2 separate regions of the Homo sapiens genome follow, and region 2 is linked to region 1. A link means that fine-mapping ties the variant in region 1 to the expression of a gene that starts in the linked region. Tissue or cell type: pancreas. Region 1 holds a variant in brackets; the other region holds the start of a gene. All regions are shown on one strand. Distances are between the middles of the regions.

Region 1 (4,000 bases):
GGCCCATTGGAACCTTTTGCTAGGTTTTGGACGCTTAGCAGAACTTTGACATCGCTGGAGGCGTGGAGCCCTGTTGCACTCGAATAATGGCCTCTCTTTGAGATGATTCACGTCTAGGGAACACTGGAAAATGCTGGATTCACAGTGCCCCTTTGCCTTCGAAAAACTTTTACATTGGCTTTAAGTACTTTATTTGGAGGATGATTCTGTGATCTTATCTACACTGTTCACAAGGCAGCACTTACACAGGCCCAGAACCATGGTCATGTAGGATTCTTTCCTGGGGAAACAAAGTAAATAAACTGACTTTTAGGTGTATCTGTAGGATGGATTTTTTACAAACTTAAGAATTATGTTTAGGAAGATTAATGACTGGGGAAGTAAGTTCTTATTATATTTTTAAATGGAAAATTCGGGTTGCAAAACCACAAATTCTGATCTCAACCGTGAAAATAAATATATCAAGGCACTTAAATATTGAAAGAGATGTACCACAACGTTTACAGTAGCTATAGATAGAATTGATAGCTATTGATAGACTTATGGATTTTTGAGGGTTTAAAAAAATTTTTTTTACAGTTTTCTGATTTCCCAGATGTTCTACAATGAGCATATAAGTATTTTATAACATGGAAAGGGTTATTTTAAAACTCATTGCTTTTTGAATTAGAATTTCAAAAGAACTTTTTTGTTTTAGAGTAACAGCCCTAAAATTAACTAAAAATTAGTGGTATTCGCACATAGGTGCCATTTTAAGGGGCTGGTGCCATTACTTTCAAGCCAAGATTTTCCTCGGATTAAGAGATGGAATTTCTAAATGTCAGATGGGATTCCTAGGTGTACCTAAGTGTAGATCTAAAATGACATTGGAACCATTAGAGATAAAAGGAGTAACCACTACTTCTTTGGGGTGAGAAAAAGGAGAAATGCAATTCTGAGCTATTTTTATGATTCAGTCCAGTGAAAGACCTAATGGCTTTCCTCTTCATCCCCACCCCCAATAAGGAAAGAGTCCCCCTTGTGTAGCAAGACAAGGGTATCTCTCAGAGCACTTACCCTACGAGGTGACTGTGAGGTGATTGTATATATTTATCTGTGTTCATTAATTGTTTTTGTCTGTCTGCTATCAGAAGTAAGCAGGGCCAGGGCAGGGATCAGGCCTATATTTATTCCCCTTTGATGACCCAGATCTAGTGCAATGCCTGATATATAGTGATTTCTCAATAACTATTTGTTGAATGAATGAATGTGTCCAACTACTTTTTATGCTACCACCATCTCACCCTCTAGGCAAAGAAATGAAATCTTTCCCAGCTCCCTAGAAACTCCTCTTATACCCTCTGCCAGTTACAAACACTTTTTTCTGCCCAAATTAACTGCAATCCTGACTTTTCTTGTACTATAGTTTAATTTTGTTTTAATTTTATTTGAATAGGGTATTACCGTATGTATTTCTTTTTGCTTAAATTTTTGTGAAATTCATCTATATTTTTGCATATAACTATTTTGGTGGCTAATACAAAGTAGGAAGCAAATTCATTTTTTTCATAAGAATATTCATTTATTTCAGTACAGTTTATTGAAAATTCTCCCCTTTAACTCACCGCTCCATACTGTTCTTCTGTCA[C/T]AGAGCAAGTGCCCATGTATGCATAGGTGTGTTTGTGGGCACCCTATCTGTCCCATTGGCCTATTTGTCTGTCTTTGTGCCAATACTACATTGTCTTCATTAAAATAGCTTTATAATAACTCTTCATATTCAGTAATACATACCCTCTTAGCTTTGTTCAACAAATTCTTGGCTGTTCTTGAGCTTTTCCATGTCCATATAACTTGAGAATCAGCCTGTCAGTTTCCACACACTGAGATTTTGATGGGGATTGCACTGCATCTGTAGACCATTTAAGACTTGGCAAATTTACAATATTGAGTCTTCTAATTCATGAACATAGCATATTTAAGTCTTCTTTGGTTTCTCTCAATAAGATTTTATAGCTTTCTGCCCAGAGGTCTTACACGTATTTTATTAGTTTGATTTCTAAGTGTTTTTTTATGCTATTGTCATGTATTGTAGTAAAATTAATTTATATATTAACTTTGTATATACCAACCTTGTTAAACATATTCTAATAATTTATCTGTGAATTGTTTAGGATTTTCTCCATAGACAATTATGTCATCCATGAATAATGACAGTTTTATTTCTTCTTTTCTAATCTTTACATTTTGTATTTCTTTTTTGGCCTTTTTACACTGGCTGGGATCTGCAGTACAAAAGGAAGTGGCAACAGTGGGAGTCCTTGTATTGTAGACTGAATTATCCTCCAAAAAGATATATTGAAGTCCTAAACCTTGGTATCTGTGAATGTGACCTTATTTGGACTGCCTTTGCAGACGTAATCAAGTTAAGATGAAATCATACTGGAGTAGGGTTTGCCCTACTCTAATATGACTTGTGTCCTCATAAAAAGGGAACAGACACAGACACACGCACAGAGAACACCATATGAGGATGGAGGCAGAGATTGGAGTGCTGTATCTACAAGACAAGGGATGCCAAAGATTGCTGGCAACCCCCAGAAGCTAGGAAGAGGCAAGGAAGGATTTGCCCCTAGAGCCTTCAAAGACAGCATGGCCTTGCCAACACCTTGATCTCAGCTGCTAGTTTCCAGAACTGTGAGACAATGCATTTCTCTTGTTTGAAGTCACCCAGTTTGTGGCACTTTGTTACAGCAGCCCTAGGGGGCTCATACACCTTGTCTTGGTCCCAGTGTCAGAGGGAAAGCTTCAGTGTTTCACCATTAGGCATGATATTTGCTGAAGGTCCTTTTGGGGGATATCTTTTTTCAGATTCAGAAAATTCCTTTCTAGTCCTTGTTTGCTAAGAGTTTTTAGCATATATTTGATTTAAATTTTATTAACATCATCTATTGAAATCAATTGAAATAATTATGTGATTCTCTTACTCTGTTAATGTGATGAATTGCATTGATTTTCAAATCTTAACCCAAGCTTACATTCTGGAATGTGTCCAACATGGATTATCCTTTTTATATATTACTAGATGTGGTTTGGCAATATCAGTTTATTAACAAAGTTGCCAAAAACTGAATATAGACTATCTTCTGAAGTTCAGGAAGAAAAGAGTGGGTAAAATGTGGCTCTGGCTGTCCAGCTGAGACTGAGTTCGTCACCCACATGTCATTTCAGTGTTAGTGGGTAAATCTGCTAATCTTATTTTCAGGATATTTGCATCTAAATTCTTGAATGAGACTAGCCTGAAATTTTCCTTTATTGGAGTTTCCTCTCAGCTTTTGTATTAGAGTTGTTCTGGCCTCTTAATATGAGTTGGCAAATGGTAGCTGTTTTTCCCCTACTCTTAAAGGGTTTGTGTAAGATTACCATTTCTTCCTTGAATGTTTCTTAGAAGCCATCTGAGCCTGGAGTTTTCTTTATTGTAACATTCTAAATTATATATTTAACTTTTAAAATAGTTGGAGATTATTCAAATTCTCTATTCTGTTCCTTTACTTGAAGTATTTTTCAAGGAATATATCCATTTTATTTATATTTTAAAATATTGTTTTATAAAGTTGTTTAAAACATTTTTTAATGATTTTGTAGGTCTGCGGGACCTGTAGTAATGTCTTCTTTTTCATTCCTGACATTGGTTGTTTCTTTTCTTGTTTTCCTTGAACAGTTTCACCAAGGAAGCTGATGAATCCAATATATTTTATCTTATTAATTTATGTTCTAACTTTATTATTTCCTTCTCTCTGCTTTCTTTGAGTTTAATTTACTGTTATTTTTCTGTCTTCTTGGATAGACTCTTAACTCATCAATTTTTAAAGCCCTTCCTTTTTTTATATAGTACTCTGTATACAGTTAAAATGATAAAGTTCCCCTTGCACTTCTTGAACGTTTTGATATGTCATATTTTCATTATTCTTTGAAAATAATTTCTAACTTATATTTTTATTTCTTTTTTGACCCATGTGTTATA
Region 2 (4,000 bases), 50 kb after region 1:
CCCCCGCCCGGCACGTCCAAAACTCTCATTAACAGGTCAGCTAATCTTATTACGAGAGGAACCCTCCCTCCTCCGCTTCCCAGAGTGTGGGCGGCATGAGGCCACGGAAGCAGCTGCTGCAACTAGCATTTCAAAATCCAGAGACTTTCTAATGGTGGCAGGGGGTGAAAGGGTAGGGGGGAGGCAGGGTTGGGACAGGTAGAGGTAGGTTCTTGGGGACTTCCAGTCTTGGGGACCAAGCGCTTGGAACTAGCTGGGTTTGGGCAGAAACAAGAAGGCAAATGACGGGACCGCCGCCGGAGTCCGGACTTCCATCCCTGGAGTTCACTGTCTCTCCCAGGGAACAGAGGAGTGTCCTGGTTTCTCAGCAATGAACCAGGAGAGTGTGAGAAAGAGCATTTGTTTCTTCTCCCGTGGCCCGACAAGCCACTCTTCGGCAGTTCTGCGAGCAGATTAATTGAAACGGGCCTGGAACTTCATCCTCTCCTCCCGATGGAGTTGCTGGAGGTCTGCGGACACTGCCTGGTTAGCCTCCGGGACCACAGCGCCGTGGGCTTTCCCTCGTGGTGTCTGCCTTAAACTTGGGTGCTATCAATCTATCCAACAATGACGGATGACCTTGTCATAACGACGCCAGTCAAAACATTTTCGGTCTAACTCTCTTCCAACCAACATCGAAGCATCCTGAATGAGACCCGGATGAAGTCTGAACAGCACGTTTCCCAGGTTCAGAAAACTTGAGTGGTGGGAAGAGAAAAAGAAACAAGCAGAAATCAGGAAAGAATGGCTATTAATTGCTCAGATTGGCAAGTGCTAAATAAGTTAGGTTGTTTGGAAAAAGATAAATGCCGTTTCTTCTCTTTACGGTATGGCCAGAACCCCGGCGATGGGAAAGTACCTCCTGAGTCGGTCAATTTCACACACCCTGCCTGTGCCCTCTACCATCTACTACCGAAAATGCCAGGAAGAGCTGGGGGGCAAGTGCCTCCTTCGTGGGTGCGAGACTGCATCGAAGGGCTGCCCTGGCACAAAGTCTGGGGAGAGGACATGGTGGAGGTGGGGCTGCACTCCCACCCTGCCCCTCTAACACCAGGTTTTGGGTAGAGAAACCTATGCGTGACCTCCTGCGGCAGCCGCAGGCAGCTGACCGCAAACAGCCTCGCCCGTGTCCCGGAGCAGTTGTGCCACCAGACGTAACACTGGATACTTGTCTCCGGGCCCCAAGAAGGAGAGGGAAAGAGCCCTCCAGAAGACAACCCGAGAAGGGGTCAGCAGAGCGCTGGGTGGAGTGCAGACTCCATTGCAGCCGCCTCCCAGCCCCACGGCCAAGCTTGAGTCCCTCCAGGACCAGCTGCTCTCGGTCTCAGGACCCTCGGTCCTACGCCTCCCTGCACCGACAAGCCTCCCTCCTGGGCTGCAGACAGAGGGTTTCACTGCAGCGCGCAACCCGTCCCGCTCCGCCCCCAACTTTTCTCCCCGGAGGATTTATGTTAGAGGTTGCGTGGCGGGCGAGTGGACTCTGGCACCCAGAAGCACTTCAGGAAAAACTGAGCCGGGCAAAAGCGCAAACCCGGTCCTGGCGGCGCGGGCTTGCTCCAGCGCGGACACCACAGCGTGTGCGGAGATGCATTCCCGTTGCCGCATTTCCACTGCTTTCAAGATCAGGGCACTGAGCTGGGACCCAGAAAAGACATATCATGGGCAGAAAGAGACAACAGGCTAGCGGCAGACGTCACGCCAAAAAAACAGGGGATGGGAGGGCGGAGGAGTTTGTGCGGGAAAGGCGCTCTGGCGATGTGGGTCGGGCCGAATTAGAACTTCCTTCTTCCCTCTCCCCTCCCCTTCTTCTGGCCTGCCTCCCCTCCCCCCTCCGTTCTCTCTCTCTCTCTCTCTCTCTCTCTCTCTCTCTCTCTCTCTCTCTCTCACACACACACACACACACACACACACACACACACACACACACACACACACACACACACACACACTCACTCTATTTTGTGCTGTCGTAAAACCCACGTGTCCAGCCGGGAAGCTGCCAGAGCGTGGAACCAAGGAGCCAGGACGCGGCAGCGGCCAAGCGCAGCAGCCCACGGCGGTTGAGTCGGGCGCCCAGGTCCGTCCGCACTCTCGCGCCCTCCGCGGGCCTCCCAATTTTCTCGCTTGCAGGTCGGGAGGTTTCCGGGCGGCACAATCTCTAGGACTCTCCTCCCGCGCTGCTCAGGGGCATGTAGCGCACGCAGGGCGCACACTCTCGCGCACCCGCACGCTCACCGAGACACCCGCACGCACCCACCGGCAGCACCGAGTTTTCAGGTAAGGTGAGGCTGGTCTGGGACTTAAGAGTCTAGGGCTTGGTAGATAGGAAGGTTGGTGGTCCTAGGTTGGGGGCGGGCGGCGAGACTGTTCTGCCTCCTGGCGCCTGAGGCCAACGCGGCTCGGGCGCTGCGCCACGCCGGCTCGGGTCGGCTCCGGGCGCTGGCTGAGGGCGGGGGCTGCGTCCTGCAGCCGAGTTCTACGGGGCAGCGCCCTCCTGTCGGGCCCCAGCATTGCTGGATGGGAGCTGGACGCTGCGATCGGGGAGGCAGAGCAGGGTGCACACAGCTCCCTCTGTGCGGCGCCGCAGCTTCGGAGTAAACTTTGCGCCCAAGCGGAGTTGGGAAGAGGGAGCCGCGGAACCGGGCGGCCGCCGGCTGAACCACCGGCTCGGGCACTTTCTCCAGGGTCCCAGTGGCCCTCTTCCCGGCCCCTTTCGCCCAGCTCACGCGCCCCCTCTTCCCTGCCCTCTGCCCCCAGTTCGAGGCGCCGGACATGCTGAAGCCCGGAGACCCCGGCGGTTCGGCCTTCCTCAAAGTGGACCCAGCCTACCTGCAGCACTGGCAGCAACTCTTCCCTCACGGAGGCGCAGGCCCGCTCAAGGGCAGCGGCGCCGCGGGTCTCCTGAGCGCGCCGCAGCCTCTTCAGCCGCCGCCGCCGCCCCCGCCCCCGGAGCGCGCTGAGCCTCCGCCGGACAGCCTGCGCCCGCGGCCCGCCTCTCTCTCCTCCGCCTCGTCCACGCCGGCTTCCTCTTCCACCTCCGCCTCCTCCGCCTCCTCCTGCGCTGCTGCGGCCGCTGCCGCCGCGCTGGCTGGTCTCTCGGCCCTGCCGGTGTCGCAGCTGCCGGTGTTCGCGCCTCTAGCCGCCGCTGCCGTCGCCGCCGAGCCGCTGCCCCCCAAGGAACTGTGCCTCGGCGCCACCTCCGGCCCCGGGCCCGTCAAGTGCGGTGGTGGTGGCGGCGGCGGCGGGGAGGGTCGCGGCGCCCCGCGCTTCCGCTGCAGCGCAGAGGAGCTGGACTATTACCTGTATGGCCAGCAGCGCATGGAGATCATCCCGCTCAACCAGCACACCAGCGACCCCAACAACCGTACGTAGCCGCAGCCCGCGCGCTCTCTCCCGGGGCGCCGGCGCCGGCGCCGGCGGGCGCGGGTGCCTGTCAGGGAGGCGGGTCGGATAGGAGTGACACGGGGCCGGGTGGGTGGGGAGCACCTGGTCCTGGCCGCTGGCCCGCGCCTCCCCGATCTCTGTGACAAAAGTTTTCTGGCGTTGGAGAAGGAAAGAGAACGGATGGGACGGCCGGTGGCACTTTGGGGTTCCCTCTCCCTCCCTCTCCTCACCTGCTTCACAGTCCCAAGTGTTTGGGGCCGGAGTCTACCGTGGACCCGGCCTAACAGACCTCTGCCCTCCCGCCGGACAGTGCCCGGGGCCAGGCGGGTACTGGCAGCGTGTGACAGGGGGTGTCTGGGTCAGGCCCTGCCTGGCCTTAGCCGGGACGAGGGAGGGACCCTCAGCGTCTCTGGGGAGCACGCAGACCAGGGCTTGTTTTTGCTACTCTCCACCCCACCTCTGGAGGGGTCATTTTCGGGCCGCGGGGTTGTGGGGGAACCGGCGGGAGCTGTTCGCTGGCCAGGCCTCACTGGAGTAGGAATTTTAGATGAAACTGAGTCCGTTTCTCCTTGAAGGC

Direction of the effects. Positions count from the first base shown, and alleles are read on the strand shown. Sizes are in standard deviations (SD) of each study's normalised expression.
For the expression in pancreas of the gene that starts at base 2,038 in region 2, T is the high allele of the variant in region 1 and C is the other (small effect, 0.37 SD a copy in GTEx).

The links. PIP is the estimated chance that this variant, and not a neighbour inherited with it, causes the effect.
Region 2: it holds the start of PRDM6, and the variant in region 1 is fine-mapped to the expression of PRDM6 in pancreas (GTEx, PIP 0.94).

The regions. Positions count from the first base shown.
Region 1 is chr5:123,037,137-123,041,136 of GRCh38, forward strand. All of the region lies in intron 1 of PPIC-AS1 (PPIC antisense RNA 1), which reads left to right. Among named protein-coding and RNA genes, the nearest start is that of PPIC, 2.4 kb to the left of the region's middle. The variant C/T (reference allele first, on the strand shown) is at 1,628.
Region 2 is chr5:123,087,204-123,091,203 of GRCh38, forward strand. It overlaps PRDM6 (PR/SET domain 6), which reads left to right and starts at 2,038. Exons shown (of 8, transcript NM_001136239.4): 1 at 2,038-2,316; 2 at 2,797-3,403. The coding sequence starts at 2,812. It overlaps PRDM6-AS1 (PRDM6 antisense RNA 1), which reads right to left and starts at 3,113. Exons shown (of 2, transcript NR_146771.1): 1 at 2,869-3,113; 2 at 1-736. RefSeq lists enhancers at 688-1,232, 1,233-1,777.